Homo sapiens: one gene and its partners. The protein of the gene in region 6 interacts with the protein of the main gene of each other region in a pairwise test. Each region holds a gene or a part of one and is shown on either strand. Other genes may lie near its edges.

The links.
Region 1: the proteins of SETDB1 (region 6) and HSF2BP interact in binary tests that used the Homo sapiens proteins (3 or more experiments, as listed by UniProt).
Region 2: the proteins of SETDB1 (region 6) and CEP76 interact in binary tests that used the Homo sapiens proteins (3 or more experiments, as listed by UniProt).
Region 3: the proteins of SETDB1 (region 6) and HSF2 interact in binary tests that used the Homo sapiens proteins (3 or more experiments, as listed by UniProt).
Region 4: the proteins of SETDB1 (region 6) and STRN3 interact in binary tests that used the Homo sapiens proteins (3 or more experiments, as listed by UniProt).
Region 5: the proteins of SETDB1 (region 6) and IFT43 interact in binary tests that used the Homo sapiens proteins (3 or more experiments, as listed by UniProt).
Region 7: the proteins of SETDB1 (region 6) and ARL6IP4 interact in binary tests that used the Homo sapiens proteins (3 or more experiments, as listed by UniProt).

The regions. Positions count from the first base shown.
Region 1 is NC_000021.9:43,533,989-43,537,488, forward strand, and holds part of HSF2BP (heat shock factor 2-binding protein), read right to left. Parts: intron 1-3,500. UniProt on the Homo sapiens protein: Meiotic recombination factor component of recombination bridges involved in meiotic double-strand break repair.
Region 2 is NC_000018.10:12,682,224-12,685,723, reverse strand, and holds part of CEP76 (centrosomal protein of 76 kDa), read left to right. Parts: intron 1-3,500. UniProt on the Homo sapiens protein: Centrosomal protein involved in regulation of centriole duplication. Required to limit centriole duplication to once per cell cycle by preventing centriole reduplication.
Region 3 is NC_000006.12:122,402,652-122,406,151, reverse strand, and holds part of HSF2 (heat shock factor protein 2), read right to left. Parts: intron 1-3,500. UniProt on the Homo sapiens protein: DNA-binding protein that specifically binds heat shock promoter elements (HSE) and activates transcription. In higher eukaryotes, HSF is unable to bind to the HSE unless the cells are heat shocked.
Region 4 is NC_000014.9:31,019,880-31,023,379, reverse strand, and holds part of STRN3 (striatin-3), read left to right. Parts: intron 1-3,500. UniProt on the Homo sapiens protein: Calmodulin-binding scaffolding protein which is the center of the striatin-interacting phosphatase and kinase (STRIPAK) complexes.
Region 5 is NC_000014.9:76,020,263-76,023,762, reverse strand, and holds part of IFT43 (intraflagellar transport protein 43 homolog), read right to left. Parts: intron 1,437-3,500; coding exon 1,369-1,436; intron 1-1,368. UniProt on the Homo sapiens protein: As a component of IFT complex A (IFT-A), a complex required for retrograde ciliary transport and entry into cilia of G protein-coupled receptors (GPCRs), it is involved in ciliogenesis.
Region 6 is NC_000001.11:150,950,363-150,953,862, reverse strand, and holds part of SETDB1 (histone-lysine N-methyltransferase SETDB1), read right to left. Parts: intron 3,406-3,500; coding exon 2,773-3,405; coding exon of another isoform or gene 2,769-2,772; intron 2,499-2,768; coding exon 2,382-2,498; intron 1-2,381. UniProt on the Homo sapiens protein: Histone methyltransferase that specifically trimethylates 'Lys-9' of histone H3. H3 'Lys-9' trimethylation represents a specific tag for epigenetic transcriptional repression by recruiting HP1 (CBX1, CBX3 and/or CBX5) proteins to methylated histones.
Region 7 is NC_000012.12:122,979,340-122,983,409, reverse strand, and holds ARL6IP4 (ADP-ribosylation factor-like protein 6-interacting protein 4), read right to left. Parts: upstream 2,730-4,070; 5' UTR 2,665-2,729; exon of another isoform or gene 2,423-2,664; intron 2,282-2,422; 5' UTR 2,271-2,281; coding exon 2,111-2,270; intron 1,840-2,110; coding exon 1,531-1,839; intron 1,454-1,530; coding exon 1,336-1,453; intron 942-1,335; coding exon 872-941; intron 791-871; coding exon 734-790; 3' UTR 501-733; downstream 1-500. Other genes in the region: OGFOD2 (2-oxoglutarate and iron-dependent oxygenase domain-containing protein 2), read right to left, coding at 4,064-4,070.

The DNA of each region.
Region 1 (3,500 bases), on a different chromosome or scaffold from region 6:
ATACTAGAGATCCTAGCCTGTGCAGTAAGGCAAGAAAAAGAAATAAAAGGTTTATTGATTAGAAAGGCAGAAATGAAACTGTCTCTATTTGCAGATGATATGATTGTCTATACAGAAAATCCCAAAGAAACTAGAAAAAAAGTTATTAGAACTAATTGAGTTTAGCAAAGTCACAGAATACAAATTCAACATACAAAGGTCAATTGTATCCACATACTTATAACAAAAAATTAAAAATCTAATGTTTTTTAAAAATTACCATATATTATATAATAGCACCAAAACATGAAACACTTAAGTATAAATCTCATGAAACTATGTGCAAGATTTCTATGCTGAAAACAACAAAACACAGATATAAGGATCCACAGACATATAGATGGAGAGAATATGCCATATTTATGGACTAGAAGACTCAATATTGTTAAAATGTCAAATCTCCTCAAATTCATCTATATAATCAATGCAATGCCAACCAAAATCCAAGTTGAAATTTTAGCAGAAATCAACAAGTAATTCTCAAATTTATTTGGAAAAACAAAGGAACTAGACCAGACAAAACAATTTAGAGAAAGAGAAATGTTGGGGAATTGCAGTACTAGATTTCAACATTTATGGCCATAAAGAGTGTGGTACTGGTCAAGTGACAGAGCGACAGACAAAGAGATAAGTGAAATAAAATTAGAGGATCCAAAAACAGACCACAGCTTTGTGAACTCTCAACAAAGGTATACATTCAATTCAATCAAGAAAGAATAACCTTTACAACAAATGGTGCTGGAAAAATTGAACATCCATATGCAAAAACAAAGAACTTCAATCTATACCTTGCCTAACATACAAAAATTATACAAAAATTAATAACATACCTAAATGTAAAACCCCAAATTTTAAAACTTCTGGAAGAAAACAGGAGAAAAATCTTTGTGACCTTGAATTAGGTAACAATTTCCTAGACACAAAACCAAAAGCATAATCCATACAACTAAATAATTTATTAGCCACACCAAAATTTTAAAAATCTGCTCTTCAAAAGACAGTCACAATGAAAAGACAAGCCACTAGATGAGGACAAAACATTTGCAAAACACGTATCTGATAAAGGACCTAAATCCAGAATACACATACATCTCTGAAAACTCAGTAACACAACAGCCCAATAAAAATAGGGAAAGTGTTTGAAAAGACACTTCACCAAAGGAGATACACAAATGGCAAGCACACAAAAAGATGCTCAGCATCATGGCTATTAGAAAAATGGAAATTAAATCCATACCTATTAGAATGGCTAAAATTAAAAAATAAAAATCTGAAAATACCAAGTGTTGACAAGAATGAGGAACAACTGGAATGTTCATAGATTAGTGGTGAAAATTTAAAATGGTACTGCCAGGCCAGGCGCAGTGGCTTACGCCTGTAATCCCAACACTTTGGGAGGCTGAGGCAGGCAGATCACCTGAGGTCAGGAACTTGAGACCAGCCTGGCCTCCATGGTGAAACCCCATCTCTACTAAAAATACAAAAATTAGCTGGGTGTGGTGGTGCACGCCTGTAATCCTAGCTACTTGGGAGGCTGAGGCAGGAGAATCACTTGAACCCACGAGGTGGAGGTTGCAGTGAGCCGAGATCGTGCCACTGCACTCCAGCCTGGGCAATAGAGCGAGACTCTGTCTCAAAAATAAATAAAATAAATAAAATAAAATAAAATAAAATAAAATAATAAAATAAAATAAAATAAAATAAAATAAAATAAAATAAAATAAAATAATAAAATAAAATAAAATAAAATAAAATAAAATAAATAAAATGGTACAACCACCTGAGACAACAATTTGGCAATTTCCTATACATTTAAACACATACTTACCACATAACTCAGCATATGAGTTATATGCTGAGATAGTTTTATGTCACAACTCATACAATTGTCTACTAACAAGTGAATTTTGTTCTATGTAAATTATAACTCAACAAATCTGGCTTTATATTAAAAATAAGAAGAAGGCCAGGCTTGGTGGCTCACGCCTGTAATCCCAGCACTTTGTGAGGCCAAGGTAGGTGGATCACCTAAGGTCAGGAGTTCGAGACCAGCCTGAAAAACATGGTGAAACCCTGTCTCTACTAAAAATACAAAAATTAGCCAGGTGTCATGGCAGGCACCTGTAATCCCAGCTACCTGGGAGGCTGAGGCAGGAGAATCACTTGAACCCCAGAGGCAGAGGTTGCAGTGAGCTGAAATCACGCCATTGCACTCCAACCTGGGCGACAGAGTTAAGACTGCATCTCAAAACTAAAAAAAAATAAAAATAATAATAAGAAATTAGATCCCTGGACCCTCTCCCCTATTCCCTGCCTCTGGAAAAATGCCCTTCCCTAGTAGAGACTGGACATTTCTTTTCTTTTCTTTTTTTTTGTGAGACAGAGTCTCACTCTGTCACCCAGGCTGGAGTGTAGTGACGTAATCTCAGCTCACCGCAACCTCCGCCTCCCAGTTCAAGTGATTGTCCTGCCTCAGCATCCTGAGTAGCTGGGATCACAGGCACCTGCCACCACACCCAGCTAATTTTTATATTTTTAGTAGAGACGGGGTTTCATCATGTTGGCCAGTCTGGTTTCGAACTCCTGACCTCAGGTGATCCGCCCACCTCAGCCTCCCAAAGTGCTGGGATTAGAGGTGTGAACCACCCCACCTGGCCTGGACATTTATTTTCTAAAGAATCTCTGGAGGTGAAACATCAGGCACAATTGAGGATGGAGGTTCTGTCTGGAAAACATGTGGATTAGATAAACACATACCTACAAGCTCTAAGACATTCCCTCTATCTCTACTTTGTTTCCGGAGTTTATAGGCCTTCATCCCTCCAGAAATAAGGGTGGGTGAGTCTTCTCCAGACAATCTGAACAACCCAAGACAACACAGTCGAAGATACTGACCTATGGGTTCCCAATTAATTGATGCACCAGCTCACACTGCAGAAAAGTTCAGAAGCTCCACCCATATGCTCACAGCTTCCAATCGGCATTATAAATCCCACTGTTAAACATGACCAGACAACCACACATCACCAGACACCTGAGAAAAAGATAAATGGCTATCATTTTAAACAGGAACAAAAGGAGGACAAAGAAAAGAGATTGTGCAGTGAGAAGAAAAGTTTTAAAAAACTATTATTAATATCTTCCTCAAGGAGGTAAAAGAAGCTATATCATCTGTTAAACAAGAATGGGATGCTATTTTTTAAGACAATTAAAAATAAACAGCAGTCTTAGAAATTAAATGCCTGAGAGTAGAGATGAAAACTTCAATAGGAAGTATGAAAAAAGAAGTTGAGAGTACAGATGTCCCCTCTTATCTGTTGCTAAAACTTTCTGTGGTAGTGCCGGCATGTGTCAAATACAATCAAACTTGTTCCTGTCAGGTGCTTTCTGACAGTGGCAAAGCTCTCAGGGCACACACTGAGCATTCCCTCCTCCTATGGGCTTCCTGGCCACCTCCAAAG
Region 2 (3,500 bases), on a different chromosome or scaffold from region 6:
GGAGGCGGAGGTTGCAGTGAGCTGAGATCGCACCATTGCACTCTAGCCTGAGGACAGAGCAAGACACGTCTCAAAAAAAAAAAAAATACTATTTTATATAAGCCTTGAGTATCCACGGATTTTGTTTTGCAAGGGTCCTGGAACTAACCGCTTTGGGGTGCTATCAGCTTGACCACGTCAGAACCTTGTTCTGTTTTTCATAACATTTAAATATCAATACACAAAAAACTCAGCATCTTTATTTTCTCATGTAGTTTCTTATTTATTGTGATTTCTGTGATGTAGGGACCTACAAGTACTAAAATGTCAGAAATCAAGTTGCAGAATGAATTAGGAACAGCACCAGGACCAGACCATGGCTTTCTGGTACTACTGATGTGTTGCAATTTGCTCAGATAATACATCTTTAAAAAAGAGAAAATAAGGCTGGGCGTGGTGGCTCATGCCTGTAATCCCAGCACTTTGGGAGGCAGAGGTGGGTGGATCACCTGAGGTCAGGAGTTCAAGACCAGTCTGACCAACGTGGAGAAACTCCGTCTCCACTAAAAGTACAAAATTAGCGTGGTGTGGTGGCACGTGCCTGTAATCTTAGCTACTGAGGAGGCTGAGGCAGGAGAATTGCTTGAACCTGGGAGGCGGAGGTTGTGGTGAGCTGAGATCGCGCCATTGCACTCCAGCCTGGGCAACGAGCGAAACTCCATAAAAAAAAAAGAGAAAATGGCAGTACAAAATTAATATAGAAAAAATATTAAAATAGAAAAAAATCTTGAATTGCATGCTATTTAGTTTGTTTAGTTTGTATTTAAATACAAATGTATATTTAATTACACTTTTTGAATGACTTGATTTTAGTAAACTAATTTTATAGATTATGGGATATTTCCTAATCTGTGTTCTAAAAATGTTGATAGTATGATAACAAACAAGTAAAACTATCTTTAGGCCAGGCGCGGTGGCTCACGCCTGTAATCCCAGCACTTTGGGAGGCCGGGGAGGGTGGATCACCTGTGGTCGGGAGTTCTAGAACAGCCTGGCTAACATGGAGAAACTCCATCTCTACTGAAAAAATACAAAAATTAGCCAGCCATGGTGGCGGGCTCCTGTAATCCCAGCTACTTGGGAGGCTGAGGCAGGAGAATCACTTGAACCTGGGAGGTGGAGGTTGCAGTGAGCCGAGATCACGCCATCGCACTCCAGTGTGGGCAATAAGAGCAAAACTCCATCTCAAAAAAAAAAAACAAAAAACTATCTTTAGCCTGGGTGACAGAGCGAGACTCTGTCTCAAAAAAAATAAATAAAGGTGACAGCAGGCCAGGCATGGTGGCTCATGCCCGCAATTCCAGCACTTGGGTAGGCCAAGGTGGGCAAATCACTTGAGCCCAGAAGTTCCAGACAAACCTGGGCAACATGGCAAAATCCCTCTCTCTAAAAAACTATAAAAATTACCCAGGCATGGGCCAGGTGTGGTGGCTCACGCCTGCAATCCCAGCACTTTGGGAGGCTGAGGCGGGCGGATCACACGGTCAGGAGATCGAGATCATCCTTGCTGATACGGTGAAACCCCATCTCTACTAAAAACACAAAAAAAGGAGAATCACTTGAACCCATGAGGTGGAGGTTGCAGTGAGCTGAGATCGCGCCACTGCACTCCAAACTGGACGACAGAGCAAGACTCTGTCTCAAAAAAAAATACATATATATATGATATCATATATATGATATATATCATATATATATTTAGATTTTTTACTGTACAAACAACAGCATTACAACAGTAATGGTGAAACTTTACCTATAATTCTATTCCTAGTTTATTATTTCTTTTTATATTTTTTCTGCTGTATATGTATCATTTATTTCATAATTATAATTGTAAATAAATTTTTGTATCTTGCTTTATAATTAAGCATTATGCTATGAACATTTTTCTATGTGTTGCTACAGTCTTTCTGATTTCCTTTTTTTTTTAAATGAGACAGAGTTTTCCTCTTGTCGCCCAGGCTGGAGTGCAATGGCATGATCTCGGCCCACTGCAACCTCCGTCTCCTGGGTTCAAGCGATTCTCCTGCCTCAGCCTCCCTAGTAGCTGGGATTACAGGTGCCCGCCACCACCCCCAGCTCATTTTTGTATTTTTAGTAGAGATGGGGTTTCACTGTGTTGGCTAGGCTGGTCTCGAACTCCTGACGTTAGGTGATCTGCCCGCCTCTGCCTCCTAAAGTGCTGATTTCCGTTTTTTAATGAGTGTTTTAAGTTTCCTTGAGTCAATATACAAAATACATTTAACTATTTCCCTATTGTAGGAACTGCCAAGTTAGGCTCTTTTTTTTTTATTCAGTGGTTTTGTTGTTGTTGTTTTCTTTTGTTTTTGTTTAGGACGGGGTCTCGCTCTGTCGCCCAGGCTGGAGTGCAGTGTCACGATCTCGACTCACTGCAACCTCCGCCTCCCAGCCTCAAGCAATTCTCCTACCTCAGCCTCCTGAGTAGCTGGGACTACAGGCATGGAGCCACCATGCCTGGCTTTTTTTTTTTTTTTTTTGGTATTTTTAGTAGAGATGGGGTTTCTTGGCCAGGGTGGTCTCAAACTCCTGGCCTCAAGTGATCTGCCCGCTTCAGCCTCCCAAAGTGCTGAGATTACAGGCAAAAGCTGGCACACCTGGCCATAAAGTTAAGCTCATTTTAAATTTTTTAATGTTGCCATGAATGAACTTTCACACTGACTATCTTTGCAGATATTTTTATTTTACTTCTGAATTTTCTTTAGGACAAAATCTCAGAAATAATTGGGTCTAAAAGGTTGATTAAGCCAGGCGCAGTGGCTCATGCCTGTAATCGCAGCACTTTGGGAGGCCGAGGTGGGTGGATCACTTGAGGTCAGGAGTTCAAGACCAACCTGGCCAACATGATGAAACTCTCTCTCTACTAAAAATACAAAAATTAGCTGGGTGTGGTGGTGCACGCCTGTAGTCCTAGCTACTCAGGAGGCTGAGAATCATTGGAACCCGGGAGGAGGAGGTTGTAGTGAGCCGAGGTCATGCCACTGCATTCCAGCCTGGGTGACAGAGCGAGACTCTGTCTCAAAAAAGAAAAAAGTAAATTAAAAAATAAAAGATTGGTTATTACATTTTTGTAAAGCCACTTGAAGAACTATAAAATGCTATTTGTTTTCTTACAGTTAATTTTTTTTAAAAAACTTTAGCACCACCAAATCCAATTTTTTGGAGAAAGAAATTTCTTGGCCAGGTAAGGTGGCTCATGCCTGTAGTCCCAGCACTTTGGGAGGCTGAGGCAAGCGGATTGCTTGAGTCCAGGAATTCGAGACCAGCCAGGGCAACTTGGTGAAACCTTGTCTCTACAAAAACACAAAAAATAGCTGGGCCTGGTGATGAGTGCCTGTGGTCCCAGCTATTCAGGAGGCTGAGGCGGGGGAATCACTTGAGCTGGGGACATCAAGGCTGCAGTGAGCTGAGGACGTCAAGGCAGCATTGAGCTGAGATCATGC
Region 3 (3,500 bases), on a different chromosome or scaffold from region 6:
TTCCTTAAATAAATATCTTTCTTTTTCTAGGTGCCATGATGTTAAGTTCTGTCAGCAGGGGATAAAAGAGAGATATTACAAGAAAAAGGAGCTCTTGTTCCTGACTCATGTATCCTTGGCAAGCTTCTGCAGTGGAGGCAGCTTCTCCAGTGCCTAGCTCTTGATATTAATGGTGGTCAGCAACACTCAAAGACCATCAGCTTTCACTGGTGCTTCCTCTCCCTTGGGAGGTTTCAAAGCAGAGTATCTCTAACAAGATATCTCCCCATAAACAGTTTTTTAGAGTACTCCAGAACAGGGATTTATAAACTTTTTCTTAAAGGGACAAATAGTAAATTAGGCTTGCAGATTATAACATCATAACTCTACCTTTGTAGTGAGAAAGCAGATACAGACAATATGTAAATAGATTGGGCATAGCTGTGTTCTATTTAAACTTTTTTTTATAAAACAGCTGGCAAAAGGACTACAGTTTGCCAACCCGTGACCTAGAGGGCATATTTCCCACCAAGTTTTGAAGGATGCATTTCCAGTAAGTTCCACCAGAGCAACACCAGTGACTGCTCTGCTACTGAGTCATGGCCATATTCCTTCCAATAAGGTAAGAATCTTAGCCTTGGCAAAAAAGGTTCTTACTTGGGCACTCTATCTCAGCCCTATCAGTAGTGGCTGCTTCTTAAAACTATTCTTGTATTCTTTTAATTTTCTTTAATTTCCCTGATATAGTCAGTAACTCTATTAAACTTACCCTCTTGAAAATACCTGTGGCTTCTGACTTATGATTGCATCTTAACCGACACACAGTTTATCTTGGTGTTTTTTAAAGGCATTTATCACTAACTGAAATTATATTGATTGTGTTTTGCTTGCTTTTACTTTTTTTTTTTTTTTTTTTAAGAGACAGGGGTCTCAGTATGTTGCCCAAGCTAGCCTCAAACTCCTGGGCTCAAGCAATCCTCCCAACTCAGCCTCCCCAGTACCCAGAACTACGACATGCACCACCATACCCAGCTTGTATTTGCTTACTATTTATTGATATCCACCACTCAATGTAAGCTCCATAAAGGTAGGCACTTTGGTTCACTACTGAATGAATTCCTGATACCTAGCACAATATTAGGTCATAACAGATTCATAACAAATACCTGTGACTGACTAAATTAATCTTTGGCCAAATAAACTGAATTTTTAGAATTTCAACTATTTGATTATATAAAATAGGGAGATGACAATAATCTCTTGCTATACCTGTGCTCACTCTCTCTCACATACACTCCTTATTCATTCATATCACTCTATCTCTGCTTATTGTATTCCCTCAGTCTCTATTCTAAAATTAGTAAATAACTTCTTTGAGTGCAAAAATTCACCTTCCTGTCTTTTAAACCTGTGAGGTTCAAGCAATACAACACAGAATCTCCCTAAGTATTTTACAAGGATGAGAAAACTACTACTGAGTGAGGTGGGAAAGATAGGCACCTTCTCCTTAAACCTTACCCACAAATGTTGGCAAGAGTCCAAAGAGTAGAAACAGTCGTTACTCTCCAAATTAATTTTGGCACTCTTGTTAGAACACTCAAAATATTCCTAATAATCTAATACTTCAGCCACATTACTTTAAAACATTTTTCGGAACAGAAATTTGTGGCTTGCTAATCTATAATTTTTAATATGCACCAGCTACTCTTTTAGAGTCTTTAGCTCATTCTTTCTCTTATATATACAAATAAAAATACTTGAAAATCAATCTTTCAACTTTTCTGCAGGTCCATCTAAGTTGGATTTTACCCCCATCCTCCCACACTTGTAGTCTTTCTTATTTTCACTTTGAAATACTAATATAATGCAATGGTTGCTGGGATGTTCAAAACAATACTAGCACTTTGTGAAGTCCAAGGGCCTACTGCTCAAATTCATCCAAAACAGCTAGAAAACAATGGAAAAATTCTGTTTTTGCTCTCTCTCCCTCCTACCTATTTCCTAATTCATCTCTGCTGACATGAGGGGGATAGAGAAGCAGAGAATGCCAAAGGGCACAAAAAGGGGGGAAAGCTGGGTATGAAGTCTTTGGTGGAAATCACTTCATTTTCTCAAACAATCTGAAGAACAGAGACAAAGGTAACAACACTGACAAAAGGATGACCTTCCAGTTCTTTCCTTCTTTTATACTGCTTCACTTCAGCATACGTTGGTTGTAACATTTCATTAACTCGTAAAGGCTGTTTTTTACTATATAACTTCATTTAACCTCTACGGCCTTGTCTCTGAATATCAAGTTTCACCAGTTGCTTCCAAGCTAATATGTGCCCTCTCTTTAGGACACTTAAGATTTAAAACAGTTTTAGGTCGTCTGACAGTACAATCTCTGTACTTGATTCTGACAACAGACTACCAAAGCCAAGAACAGTTATATAAAATTTTACATTTAAAGGAAATGTTAAAAAAAATGAAAACTTTTCATTTTTGTTTTTCAGAAGAGTAAGGAGAAAATGGAAATATGTAAAACATACTTTCTTTTCTTTCTGTTTTTTGTTGTTGTTGTTTTGAGACAGGATTTCGTTCTGTTGTTCAGGCTGGCTTGCAGTAGTGTGATCTCAGCTCATTGCAACCTCTGCCTCATGGGCTCAAGCCATCTCCCCTCTTCAGCCTCCTGAGTAGCTGGGACTAAAGATGCACGCCACCATACCTGGCTACTTTCTGTATTTTTTTGTAGAGACAGGGTTTCACCATGTTGCCCAGGCTGGTCTCAAACTCCTGGGCTCAAGCAACCTGCCCATCTTGGCCTCCCAAAGTGCTGGGATTACAGGCATGAGCCACCACGCCTAGCCACATTATGCTTTCTTAAAGACTGTCTGGAATTAAGGCATTTCTATTATTTTAGAGTCAATAACATATTTAAGTATAATTTCAATTGTTCAGATTATTATATTCTTGTATTTAATGGTGAGAGGTATTATTTCCCTTTTCAATTTTGTCATATTGCAAATTTCGAGGAAAATTAAAGTTATGTACGTCTCCAGAGATATTATCTAGAGATATTACCAACTGCGTTTTCCAAAACGCAATTGGTAAGAGTTTTTTTTCCCTTGCCTTACACTCAAGGTAGAGAAATAAATTATTTTCCACCATTGAAAAAAAAAACTGCACAAAAGCTTGTCTGGTTCCCAAAACAACTGCTTCTTCTAAAAGTTCTCAATGATTTTCATAGTATAAATGCTAAATTACCTCAACAGAAATACAACACAAGTTTGAAGGAAACCAGAAACCACCATAAATAGCAACTTTCAAAAGATGAGAGTACCTGGGCGCCGGTGGCTCACACCTGTAATCTCAACACTTTGGGAGGCCGAGACGGGTGGATCACTTGAGGTCAGGAGTTTGAGACTGCCTGGCCAACATGGTGAAACACTGTCTCTACTAAAAATACAAAAATTAGCCAGGCATGGTGGTGCGCATCTGTAATCACAACTACTCGAGACGCTGAGGCAGAAGAATCGTTT
Region 4 (3,500 bases), on a different chromosome or scaffold from region 6:
GAACCAAACTAAAGGATCACATCTTAAAGCTCTTCTGTCTCTGATTCTTCCTTACCTTAGACTCAGGTAAAGCATTGTTAGTAAGGTCATAGGACAGTGGTTTCTTAACTTTTATATAACATGAATTACCAAAATTCCACAGACAGTCCATTTTCTTCAAGCCCTAGATCAATCCAGATCTCCAGAGGATAAGAGGCCTGCATATTTTTTAGAGTTCTACAAGTGATTCTTTCTTCACAGTAGTGCCTGTTAAAGAGAAAAATTACTACACTACACTTTTCTTTTTTGTAATTTCATAGTAGATTCATTAAAATCTTGTCATGGAAAAGACACTAGGATTTGCAAATTACTATTCCAGACCAGCTTTTGAAAACCCTGAAAATGGAAAATTCAGGAGATTCCCCCCTTAAAAATGAAGAAATCAAGTAAGTCTAAGCAAAATATCTCCTACTAACTTAAGGATCTTTAAGCAGCAACATCTATCATGTTACGACTTCTAAAAGTTAGAAACTGCCATTTAATCAGCACTATAACCTCATGAGGTGAGTATTCCTGTTTTACAGGTGAGGAGACAAATTTAGGTAGGTTAAATCATTTTGCCAAGGTCACCTAGCCATAAAGTATTGCAGCTGAGATTTGAACCCAAGTCTGTCTGATTCCAAAGCCTGTAGTCATGTTACCACTCTTGTAACCATTATGTTATACTGTCTTAGCTCTTTTTTATAGAGTGGAATCTGACTTGTAATTCTTCATCTAGTATTGCGTGGCCCACACCACTTGAGTACATTTCAATAAAGTTTTATTGAGCGCCTGTGATGCTGCTGCAAGGCATAGTTTATATATATTGCTAATGTGTCCTTATATTTTTCTTTATAGTTTGTATGTAGTAAGTGGATTTTGGGTATATACAAAATGCTTGTTTGCCAAGTGTAAAAATATGACATAGCTAATACAAGAAAATGTAGTCAAAGAGTTTATGTTCTTTTTTTTTTTTTTTGAGATGGAGTCTCGCTCTACTGTCGCCCAGGCTGGAGTGCAGTGGCACCATCTTGGCTCACTGCAAGCTCTGCCTCCCAGGTTCACGGCATTCTCCTGCCTCAGCCTCCCCAGTAGCTGGGACTACAGGTGCCTGCCACCACGCCCAGCTAATTTTTTTGTATTTTTAGTAGAAATGGGGTTTCACCGTGTTAGCCAGGATGGTCTTGATCTCCTGACCTCGTGATCTGCACACCTTGGCCTCCCAAAGTGCTGGGATTACAGGCGTGAACCACCGCGCCCGGCCGACAGTGATTTTTCATAAAGGTGTTCCCTTTGTTCTGGGATTTTTAGCCTTCATACATTTTTACTGTTAGGCATTTCCTTTTTCAGATGATGGTGATAATAGTTAAAAAAATTTTATTGATAGTATTAAGGGAGTCCACTACCTTGTGTCAGATTCCCTGTTTCTTTTTGAAGCCCTTGAAATGAAGTTTAGGGACCACTGATCTAGAATTCTCTTTATGCTCCTCCACTACCCATTAACCCCACTCTGTAGTCTGCCTTTTCGCTTTCTTCTCTCCTCCCTTCTAAACACTTCGTAGAACACTATGTTTTCTGTTCATGATTGACCTTCAAATTGCCAAATCCTTTGGCCTTATAAACCGTATGTACTTAACCAACACTCTGTTGTTAACAAATCCTTCAAAACTGTTTTCTTTTGCTTCCGCTCTGTTTTTCCTGTCATCCACTTATCACTTTTCTTCATATGTTTTCTTTCTTTTGTTCCCAGTTGTTATTATGTGGGGTTCTGGTTCTATTTTATGTTCTCACTGTATATTCAGAATCAGATTTTTAGCTACCATGTACCATCTTAATAATACCTAGCATTTATTTACTCTTTCCTAATTGTTATTTCAGTGCTTCAGTATTTCAGTATTCATTTAATTCATTCAGTATTCATTTAATTCTCAAAACAACTCAGTGAGGTTGATACAGGTATAATTGGTGTCTTTTTTTTATTTTTTCTGACACTGGCATATCGAGGCCCAAAGGTTAAGTAATCTATGCAACTAGGAGGCAGTAGAACTGGGATTTAAACTTAGACTGCCTGTAGAGGCCATGTTCTTAACCACTACTAGATTTTTGGCGTCCAGATGTCCCTTGTATTTCTAACTTCCGTTTAGTTTTTCTACCTCAAATTCAATACATCCATTCAGTTAATCTCAAGTGCCTGCCTCTTTCCCTTGACAAAACACACTTGCTCATTCTTTATTCCTTGCCACATTAAAGTTAACACTATCCTCCCCATCGCTAGTACTATAGAGGTCATTGAACCTTCCCCCTGCGTATGGCCTGTGAGTTTTATTGATTCCAGCATGATTATTTGGTGATATTTGAGTGCGATTTTGTGCTAGATCCTGGGTGTATAATGATGTATGAGACACAGACTTTGTCCTCAGGGAGCTTATACTCTAGAAATAATTTTTTTTTTTTTCAAGAGAGCGTCCTACTCTGTTGCCGAGGCTGGAGTGCAGTGGTGCCAACATGGCTTACTGTAGCCTCAGGCTCCCGAGCTCAACTGATCCTCCTGCTGCAGCCTCCCGAGTAGGTGGGACTACAGACATGGACTATCACACCAAGCTGTTTTTATTTTTAGTTCAGGTGGGTTCTCAGTTTGTTGCCCAGGCTGGTCTTGAACTCCTGGGCTCAAATGATTCTCCCACCTCATCCTCCCAAAGTCCAAGTATTGGGATTACAGGCATGAGCCATCATGCCTGGCCAATAAAATGTTACAACAAATTAGCAGAATGCTGAGAGAATAAATGGTGATAGGAAACCTGTATATGTAATGGAGTTTCAGATAATACCTAATATTTATTGAGCACTTTCTTTTTTTTTTTTTAGAGACAGTTTTCGCTCTGTCACTCAGGCTGGAGTACAGTGGTGCTATCTCAACTCACTGCAACCTCCACTTCCTGGGTTCAGGCAGTTCTCATGCCTCAGTCTTCTGAGTAGCTGGAATTACAAGCACCCACCAACACGCCCAGCTAATTTTTGTATTTTTTGTAGAGATGGAGTTTCACCATGTTGGCCAGGCTGGTCTTGAACTCCTGACCTCAAGTAATCCGCCTGCCTTGGCCTCCCAAAGTGCTAGGATTACAGGCATGAGCCACTGCGCCTGACCTATTGAACACTTTCTATATGGTTGACATTATTTTTGGTTCTTCAGTACATTTAATTCTCATAAAGTTCCTAAATGTATACTTCTAGATCTGAAGTATCGGGAATACCTAATTGTACAAAGAACATGCCAGTTGGAAGCTACAGCATTTAGCAGAAGTTCTAAAGTAGGAAAGAGCTTCATTTAAACTGTGAACTGGCCAGGTGTGGTGTCTCACGCTTGTAATCCCAGCGCTTTGGGAGGTTGAAATGGGAGGATCACTTGAGCCCAGGAGTTGGAGACCAGCCTGGGCAACAGTGAGACCCTGTATCTAAAAAAGAAAAAAAAAAAAAAGAAAATG
Region 5 (3,500 bases), on a different chromosome or scaffold from region 6:
TTACTTCTCCCAAACCGACCCTTCATATGAAGCATTTATGGCACCATAAAGATCCCAAAGCTCCTGCAACTCACAAACATCACCACCTGCCAGAATGCCTGTGAGAAGAATATGGTCAAAGCCTATCTATGAGGACAGAATGGGGATAAGAAACAGTCATCATCATCATGATAATAGCCAACATCTACAAGTGCTTCCTAAATGCATCTCTCTTCTAAATATTTTACACATACGAATTCATTTAATCCTCACAATGATCCTTTCAAGTAAGAACTATTTTTAACCCCATTGTAGAGATACAGAAATGGAGACCAGAGATATTAAATTACTTGCTTGGGGTCTCTGAGATAATAAATGGCACAGTTAGGATTCAAAGCCAGGCAGCTGGCTCCAGTACCTGCGGCTGTCACCACACTCTGCCGCCCCTCAATATGGAACCACAGGGATCAGCATCTAGTCTAAGCTGTGGAAAGGCTGGGAGGGCTAAACACAACAGCAACATTCCTGTTACATATGTAATTTCCTTCAGTCTTTGAATCACCCTGTAGGGATCATCAATGTGTCCATCCAGGTGCTCAGCCATGGTAAACATCTTACCCAACATCATCCAGCTCAGAGAGAATGGCATCTGCCATCTACAGCCCCACACTGAACACTATGCAGTTTATAAAGTGCTGCTACATGCACTGTGACATCAGGTTTCCCAGCCTTCCCAGGAGCTCTGGAGAGGCTGATGAGATAATGTCAGATGGTTATGGTATAAATATTCATGCCAGCTTACAGTAAACACAAGATACCAACTAGGCAGGGTGATGGGACATCTGTATTGTTCCCCTTTATGAATGATGACTGATATATGTCAGGGGAGGACATGCCGCACAGTTCATCAGCAGTTACCAACAGGCAATTCCATTATGTTTTGGAAATTAAGAAGAACACAGAATGCTACAACATGGATAAACTTTGAAAACATTATGACAAGTGAGAGAAGCCAGCCATAAAGGACCACATAATGTAGATTGTATTTACATGAAATGTCCAGAATATGCAAATCAGAGAGAGAGAAAGTTGACTGGTAACCACCTAGATCTAGAGAGGTTGGGGGGACATGGGAAGTGGCTGCTAATAGATACAGGGTTTCTTTTGGTGGGGAGGTGATGAAAATGTTGTAAAATTGATTGTGTTAATGGTTGCACAACTCTGTGAATATATTAAGAATGATTAAATTGTGCATTTTAAGTGGGTGAATTGTATGGTATATAAATTTTTTCTCAATAAAGCTATTGTAAAAAATAAAACAACACAGGAGCAAAGTCCCCCCAACCGTGTGCACCCCCACCCATACTCTTATGAGCTGCTGGTACTCACTTCGAAGCCTTCACGGAATCACCTGCCCAGCCTCCCTGTCGGCAGCGAGGTAATTTAGCAGAGGAAGTCTACAAGGAAAGAGAAGTCAAAAGAACACATTCACTCAACATTTGCATTTATTTTATTTTTTATTTTCTATTTTTTGAGATGAAATCTCACTCTGTCACCCAGGCTGGAGTGCAGTGGTGCGACCTCAGCTCACTGGAACCTCCGCCTCCTGGGTTCAAGCGATTCTCCTGCCTTAGCCTCCTGAGTAGCTGGGATTATAGGCGCCCACCACCACGCACAGCTAATTTTTGTATTTTTAGTAGAGACAGGGTTTCACCATGTTGGCCAGGCTGGTCTCAAACTCCTGACCTCAAGTGATCCGCCCACCTGGGCCTCCCAAAGTGCTGGGATTACAGGCGTGAGCCACCGCGCCCAACCAACATTTGTGTTTAAACACCACAATGGCTGAGGGTAAGGTCACCTACACCAATCAATATTCAGCCTACCTTTTGAATAAAAATACAGTAACCTTTGTAATTTACTATGAAAATCTGGGTTCCTTCATACCCTCCCGGTGAGTCATAAATTGGCACCATGTTTCTGGAGGGCTATTTGGTAAAGTTTATTGAAAGCCTTAAAAATGCTCATACTTTTTAACCTAGCAATTCTAATCCTAGAAATTGATCCCAAGGGAAAAATCAGAGAGGAATATAATGTTATTTTTGAGTAGTGAATAGCTAGAAACAACCAAAATTGCTAGCAATAAGGAATTAAGTAAATGGTAAAATACACATGAAAATACTATGCAAATAACAAAAAGCCATGTTATAAGAAAACCCAATGATATAAGAAAGTTTGATACATTTTAAGTTTCAAAAACATGTTACCAAACAGTAAGTATATGCTTTTGATGCATTTTTTGAAATGATTATCAACATATACTATTTAGTGTTAATGAGTTATATGTACATGACTGACAGGGGACTCCATTATAGGCAATTTTAATTTTCCTTTCCTCTTCTGCTTTTTATAAACCGAAAAGTAATAAAATAAAGATATAAGAGTGAGACTTGCTTAGAAGAGATAAACTAAATTGGTGGGTGGATTAAAAATCTACTCAAGAGGCCTACACCAACCCCTGCCACTGCTGCCAGTGACCGAGTACAGTGTCTAAGAGGCTTGGGGATTGACTTGCCTCCAACCCCCACCACCACTAGCACCCATGTATGCCATCTAGGGGCCTGAGGATAGGCTGACCCCACCCACCACCACCACTGCCAGCACACACATGACCCAGGGGCATAGGATGGATCCACCCTGCCCACCACCACTGGTGCACATTTTCTGGGGTCTAAAGGACCGTTCTGCCCTGTCTGCCACCCATGCATAGTCTGCGAGCCTGGGAATAGGCCTACCCTGCCTGCCACCAGTGTCCATGTATGTCTCCCAAAAGCCTGATGGCCAGTCTACCCAGCTTGCAGCCACCACCCACCCACATGCACTACCTGGGGACTGGCTCACCTGGCCCACCACTGCCACCCCCGGCACCTGAGCAAGGCACTGGAGGCCTAAGGACTGACCTGCCCAGATCCACCATCACCAGAACCCATGTACACCACCTGGGGGGCCCAGGGACTAGCATACCTGGCTTGCCACCACTACCACTGGTGCCTAAGGACCAGCCCACTTGGTATCCCCATTTGCAATAAAGCCTTGTCACAGCCTCCAATAACAACTATAGCCTAAGCCACTAAAGAACCCATAGATACCCACTGATGCTGATTACAGCTGAAGATATATAAAAACTACATCACTGCACCCACCCAGAATCAAAGCCAAAGCACCCCACCCTACCAACACCATAGATACATCTATAGGGAAGTCTTTTCTTATGGAAGTCAATCCATAAGACTGGAAGATGCAACTATTACACCAGATACACAGATATCAATGTAAGAACACAGGAAACATGAAAAAGCAAGGAAACATGACACCTTTAAAGGAACACAATAATTCTCCAGTAACAGATCCCAATGAAAAGACAATCCATGAAATGGATAAAAAAGAATTCAAAACAATGATATTAAAGAAACTCAGTGAGGTATGAGAGAACACAGATAAAGAGTACAAAGAAGGCCGGGTGC
Region 6 (3,500 bases):
AAATTTTTTTTTTAATTTTTAAATCATTTTTTTTGAGACGGAGTCTTGTTGTGTTGTCCAGACTGGAGTGCAGTGGTGCAATCTCAGCTTACTGTAATCTCTGCCTCCCAGCTTCAAGCGATTCTCTTGCCTCAGCCTCCCAAATAGCTGAGATTACAGGCGTGCACAATCACGCCTGGCTAATTTTTGTATTTTTATTACAGATGGGGTTTCACCATGTTGGCCAGGCTGTTCTTGAACTCCTGACCTCAGGTGATCCACCCACCTTGGCCTCCCAAAGTGTTGGGATTACAGGCATGAGCCACCGCGCATGGCCAACAATTTTTTTTTTTTTTTGAGATAGAATTTTGCTTTTCTTGCCCAGGCTGGAGTGCAATGGTGCGGTCTTGGCTCACTGCAACCTCCACCTCCTGGGTCCAAGTGATTCTCCTGTCTCAGCCTCCCAAGTAGCTGGGATTACAGGTGCTCGCCACCATCCCTGGCAAGTTTTTTGTATTTTTAGTAGAGATGGGGTTTCACCATATTGGCCAGGCTGGTCTTGAACTCCTGACCTCAAGTGATCTGCCTGCCTCAGCCTCGAAAAGTGCTGGGATTACAGGCGTGAGCCACCACGCCCAGCCCCAACAATTTTTTTTTAGACACAGGGTCTTACTATGTTGCCCAGTCTGGTCTCAAACTCCAGGCCTCAAGTAATCTTTCGGCCTCACCCTCCTCAGTAGCTGTCCTCAACCTCATGCTGGTTCCACCTCCTCTGCTCAACCTTTAAATGTTGGGGCACCCAGGGCTTACTCCTGAGCCGCCTTCTCTATTATCAACATTGTCTCTAGGTGAACTTATTCAGGCTTTAAATACTCCTGTGCTGATGATTCCTAAATTTTTATATCCCACTCTCTCCAGAAATCCCAGTGTCTTCTTGACATTTCTACTTGGATTGCCTGACAGGCATTTCAAACTTTTTGTTTTGTTTTGTTTTCTGAGACTGAGTTTCGCTCTTGTTGCCCAGGCTGGAGTGCAATGGTGCGATCTTAGCTCACCACAACCTCCGCCTCCCAGATTCAAGCAATTCTCCTGCCTCAGCCTCCCGAGTAGCTGAGATTACAGGCATGCGCCACCATGCCCGGCTAATTTTTTTTTTTTGTATTTTTAGTAGAGACGGGATTTCTCCATGTTGGTCAAGGCTGGTCTTGAACTCCCGACCTCAGGTGATCCGCCCGCCTCAGCCTCCCAAAGTGCTGGGATTACAGGCGTGAGCCACTGCGCCCGGCGGCATTTCAAACTTAACATGGCCAAAACAAAAACTGAATTTCACTCAAACCTACTACTCCTTCGGTCTTCCATCTCAGTAAAAAGCACCAACAACCACTAAGATGCTCAAGCCAAAAATTTAGGAATTGTCCTTGATTCTACTCTTTCCCCCCACTCCATAATCTATCCAATTCTGTAGCTCTACCTATTAATACAGCCCAAATCTATCCTTCTTACCTCTACTATCACCTCCATTCTATTGCAAGTCATAGCTGCAACAATGTCTCTCTCTGCTGTACTCCTATAACGATCTCCTAATTGGTCTTCCAAAATCTACTTTTGCCATCCTAAGACCTATGATCTACAAAGAAGCCAGAGTAATCTGAAAAAGGCAGGTCACATCACTTGGCAGCTTAAAATCCTGTAAGAGCACCATGAATTTGATTCTAACTTTTCTTTTTTTTTTTTTAAGGCAGAGTCTCGCTCTTGTCACCCAGGCTGAAGTGCAGTGGCATGATCTTGGCTCACTGCAACCTCTGCCTCCTGGATTCAAGCGATTCTCCTGCCTCAGCCTCCCAAGTAGTTGGGACTGCAGGCACCCGCCACCACCCCCGGCTAATTTTTGTATTTTTAGTAGAGACAGGGTTTCACCAGGTTGGCCAGGCTGGTCTCAAACTCCTGACCTCAGGTGATCCACCCACCTTGGCCTCCGAAAGTGCTGGGATTACAGGTGTGAGCCACTGTGCCAGCCTGATTCTAACTTTTTTCATTCTGATTTACAAAGCCCTATGTAATCAGGTCCCTGCCTACTTCTCCTCTCTGAACACATTTCACTTACAAGTGTAAATCACAATCTGTTAAGACATTCATTTAGCTATGAAATTAAGATAATCTTTTTTTGCAACAGAAAATTGCTAGATACTATTCAATCATTCTATGTCTTCATTTCAAGGAAGGTCCAAGAAAAAAAATGTGTTTTGGAAGTCATGAAATAAGATCTAATTAATAAAATGCCTCATCTGGTATTCTATTTTTGGTTCCAATTTTTAGATTTCTGATGATTTCTATAAGCACAGAAAAACAAGAACATGCTCCTCAGTCTCTCTGAGGTACTGTGCCATTCCTTGACCACTTACCCTGTGGGTAGACACTCTTCTAGTCTCTTGTACTGGTAGCCAGAGTTAGGGTTGATTTGGCCTCCTGGGGTACAGGCTGTAGCCTGGATAGTTAGTTGATGGCAGGCACACTTGGACCTATATGACAGAGGGAAATAAAGGAAAGGAGCGGGGGGATCAGAGAACAAAAATAACACAATACACATGTACCCAAGGTTGCTCAGTGTGGCCATGTCAGACTCCAGCCTCCCTACCTCATAGCTTTCATGGAGGCCTTATAGCAGGAGTTCCAGGTGAGGGAGGAGGTAAAGGAAGATGGGGAAAGCAGTACAGATACAAGGCAAAGGAAGAGGTGAAACAGACACCATAACAAAGTTGGAAGCAGGGGCAGCAATTCCCCCCACCAACTCACTTGTCCCGACACCCATCCTTGCAGTCACAGCCAACCAGAAATTCAGGGCCTGTGTTAATGAAAACACCCTTGCCCGGGATACGTTCCTTGCTGTAGGCCACCTGGGGTGGAGGGGTTGTGTCAATCTCATTGACACAGGATAGGGGAACATCTTCCTTCCCATAAGTGATGTCCAAAATATAGTAAAAAGGCTTATAGGGCTGAAACTTTCGGTCCACAAGAACATATGGATCCAAACAGAACATCTCCAGGAAGAGGAAGTCACAGCCAGTCTCGAAAAGGTAGCGTTCTATCTCCTGCATTGTCCGAAGGCAGAGACCACAAGGTGTCTTATAGATAACATGAAAGCCCATCTTGCGGTTAACTCGACGCCGGGCTGTCATCCGCCGGAAGTCATATAGTAACGGGACCAGCAGAGGGTTCTTGCCCCGGTACTGCTCATTCCTCATAGGTCTGACTCGAGACAGACAGGTATAGCTGCAGACATGAGGTAAGTAGAAAAGCTTCTCCATGGGAGCACGGTAGGAGGGCTCTGCTGGGGCCCGCTCCAGCATGCCATGGAAGACTGGGGGTGCTGGAGGGGCCGGGAGTGCTGAGGGTGCTGGGGCAGAGGCTGTGGAGCCTAAAGGTGATCTGCAAATGAGATGCAAGTGATCAGATCGGAAGGCAACAGGACCTCTGTTTTATAATTAACCCTCCAGGTAGCTAAGCCATTTCTCTCATCTTTC
Region 7 (4,070 bases), on a different chromosome or scaffold from region 6:
GTGACACTCACAGTGACGCCAACACGTGAGTGCGGGGCTGACTCTAGGCCTAGCCTGCTTCTAGCTCCTTCCTGGGATGGAACTCAGTTTGCCCTCACAGACCTCAGTGAAACGGGTGCTGTGAGCCTCCCTGCCTCAGAGTGGAAGACACAGCTGGGCAGTGAGAGCCAGACCTGCCACACAGGCCACCCAGCCCCAGCACCTGGCTCTGCACTGCTGCGATCTGTGGAATGAACATGGCAGGGGAAGCCGACTCTCTCCATGCCTGAGTGCATGGCATTTCAGAGCCAGCTCTCTGGGTTTGGGGTTCAGCTGGCATGAGGTCTGGTCCAGGCAGGCTGACCTGAAGAGGAAGGCACAGGCGCTGGTGTGGCCTGTGCTCACGACCACCAGAGGACACCCCAGCTTTGCCCAAAAGCTCCCGGAGCCCTTGTTTTTCCCTGGCAGTCATGTAGCACCCTTCCCTCCCACTCAGCACAAAAAGCCACAGAACAGAGAAAGTCTATCCAGGGGGCCTTTAATAGCTGAGAAGTGCTGCTCTTTCAGATGGGGGTGCCAAGCAGGCCGGTGACCCCAACCTCCACCCCCTGCCCCTGAGAAGAGACTGGGCTGGGCCAGAGACCAATCCACGGGGGAAAGGCCACCAGCACCCATCAGGCTTCCCACTGGCACCCTGAAACCTGCCCAGGCTGGGCCGCCAGCGTCGTCCACAGGCCTTGGCCAGCGGGGGCCCTCAGGGAAGCAACCCAGCTCGCATCTGGAAGGCCAGGCAGTCCCCTCGGGTGGCTTGCTGGGGAAGAAAGCACACAGGAGGAGGGGTACATCACAAACAGAGCTGGGGGCGGATGGCAGGCAGAGGGGCCACACCCACCTTGTTGATCTCTCTGTGTCGTTCTTTGGTTACGATTTCCTCTAGGACCTCGCCATCTCCCTTAATAAGCCTGGGGGTGGGAGGGTCTCCGTTCAGCAAGGAATAGGCAGGTCCCCTAATGCCAGAGGAGCAGAACCACAAGCAGCCGGCAGAGGGGTCCCAGGGCTCCCACCCCGCAGCCTTGAGTGGACAGACCCTGGGGCCTCACCCACTCTCCCTGATGAAGGCAGTGGAGCTGGGCTCTGCCTTGCCAGCCTCAGCCCGGCCAACAACAGCCCTTTCAAGAGCCTCCTCCAGGCCCTTCCAGCCCCTGCAACTACTTACTCCAAGTGACCGTATTTTTGCCCACATTTGGCCTTTTTCAGGCACCAGGAACCCCGCCCGGCCCCACTCCTCCCGAGAGCACACATCTTCAGCCAACACTCCCAGATCCTGTGGTGTAAGTCAGGCCGAAAGCTCCCCACCTGGTGCGCCCCGTCTCAGGGTCCACCACCTTGCGGATGATGCTCTGCCGGGCATCCCACTCCTCCTTGGTCATGGGCTTCATGGCCTGGATTCGGGACTTCTGCTCATCCGTCAGGACTGGAAGGGAAGACGGAGGTGGTGGCCAGGCCTTGGGAAGCGACCTTCTCCCTCTCAGGTGCTGGGCAGCACAGTACCTGGGCCATCCTCTTCCTCCCCAGCTGATCGGTGCCACTGGTCCAGCGAGGGGCCCGGCAGAGCCTCCACCTGCTGTGCTTCCGCCTTCTCCTTGCCCTTCTTCTTCAGCTTCTTCCTCTTCTTCTTCTTCTTCCTCCTCTTGTCCTTGTACTTCCCCCGCTTCTTCCGGCCATCACTGGAGGAAGAGGAGGAGGACGAGGAGGAAGAAGAGGAGCTAGAAGAACTGGAAGAAGAGGAGGAGGAGCTGGATCTTGTTCTCCTCCGGGCCTTCTGCTTGCTTCTCTCTGTGATGCAGGGAGAAGGTGAGGCTGGAAGGCCAGGAGGGGAAGAGGTAAACCTTCGTCCCCTGCTCTGGCCTGGGGCAGGCACAGACCGGCTACAGGGTGAGCGCTTCCTGAGGGGCTTTCCAGAACAGAGATGGAGCTTCCCAGAGGAGCCCCTTCCTGGCTCCTGCGGCGCCTGGCCCTCACATCTCAGGCCCGGCTGCACAGAGGCATGACTGAGCGTCCCCGACCACTGCTCGCCCGACTTCCCCGGGTAGTAACTGCGCCTCCTCTCCCCGATGCCTGTGGTCCTCACCCTCCGCCCCAGGGGCCGTGCTGGCCTTGCGACCTTGGGATGTGGAGGCCGAGCAGTTCCTCGAGGTGTCTTTCCTGCTCTTCTTCTTTCTCTTTTCCGACCCCCGTCCCCGGGACCGGCTGCGACTCCTCGAGCGCTTGCGGGAGCCGACGTGAGCCATGGCGCCGCGGGCTGGCGACGAAGAAGACGCGCTTGAGCCGAAGCCCCCAAGGCCGGCCGCGGGCGGGCTCCAAGGGTGGCTCTAGCGGGGCCGGGGCCTGGCGACGCCCAGTACCCGTCACCGTCCCGGGAAAATGAGCGACCCTCACCCACCCCCAGCGCTGGGGACCCCGGTTTTCTCCGCCGACTCCAGTCCCCGCAGCGGTGCCTGTTAAGGGCCCGCCCCGTGCCCGGAGGCCCCACGCCTGCGCACCCGGCTCCAAACCCCTGGGAACTGGCCGCCGTCCGCCGCGAGTGGCGTCTGGGGCGCTTTCCCGCGCTCTCCTACCCTCCAGCCCCGCGCCCTTCGCGGCCTCGCCGCCTCAAGGGGGCCCCCGGGGCTGCTCCGTTCCCACCTCGACCGCCCTGCGGGCCGGACAGCCCGCCCCGCGCCTTCTCGAGAGGAAGCGGCGGCGAGGAGGCTTCCGGCCGGGGCGCTGCGCGGGAGGCTGGCCGGCTGGGAAGCGCGGCGCCGCTGCCTTTCGTTCTGACGCCCCAGGTTCCGTCCCGGGCGCGCCCACCTCCCGCAGAGGCAAGCAGGGGCGCCGGCCCTCGAGCTCCGCAGCCCCTCACGCCTGTGTCTGCCGAAGCTGCGCCCACTTCCAAGGCTGCCCTCTCGGCGCACGCCCGCAGCACCCACGCCCCCGGTGCCCTGGGAAGAAGGCGACCCTCGCGCGCGCCGCCCTCCTCCCCGGCTGGTCCTGCCCTCTCCATACGACTGCGAGCTCCAGACTGAGGCGCCCTGGTCTTTCCGACGCGCCCACCCAGTGACTCAGAGGTCGCAAACTCGTGTCCGTAGGGGCCAGAAAGATCTTGGCAGTGAGCGCGGGCATGGACCCCAGGCCCATCCGGAAGGAAGCCAGGATTCTGCTCCAGCTGATACGTGCAACGTGGCATGGGGCTGGTGCCCCACCTTCCCAGGGAGACCAAACTCAAGACTGCAATATGGAAGCCCCCTGAGTTTCAAATGTGTAACCCAAAGCGTGGCTGTGCGCTTCATCCAATCTCGGGCCCCCAAGTTGCAACTCTTCCACAATGACAGCCGCAAACACAAAGGGATCTTGCAAAGCACTTTATATACGTCAGCGCATTTGACTCCCAAAACAGCTCTAGGAGGTAGGTGCTAAATGAGGAAACGAAGGCACCAAAAGGTGAAGGCTCACCTAAAGCCACACAGCTGGAAGTGGCAGAAGCAGAATGGGAACCCGGGCAGCCTGGTTCCTGGCCCTGCCATTCACCCCTCTGCCATCTAGAAGATGCTACTGGTGGCCCACCCGAGTCCACTGGGGGGTGATGCCTGCTGCTGAGGGTTCACATCTGTGCTCTCTGGAGGCTTCCCTTGGCTACTGGAAGGCACCCTGCCCTGGAGATAAGTGTCTGGGAAGTTATTCACTCCTCTCTGGCCCCCTCATCCAGGAGCCAGTAACCGGTGGTGTGGGCACACTGTGGTACTGTGGGCTCTGCCTGGAGCTCTCCGTGGGGCCAGCTGAGGCTGGACGTCCTCTGAAGCCACTTCCTTGCCCAGCTGCTCCCTCCCCTCCCCTGCTTCCCTGACTCCCTCGCTGAAGCCCCATTCCAGACCCTGCTTCTGACAAACCTGAACTAAGGCAGCATCTTTGCCCATAGAATGACCCAGAAGCTGGCACACCGTTGAGCCAAGAAGTGCAGTAGGCTGCGGGGATTTTATTTCTGCCCCCAGACCAAGGCAACGGAGCCCTCACCTGCCTGCCACCCCCACACTGGGCCCAAGCAAGCTCAGGTG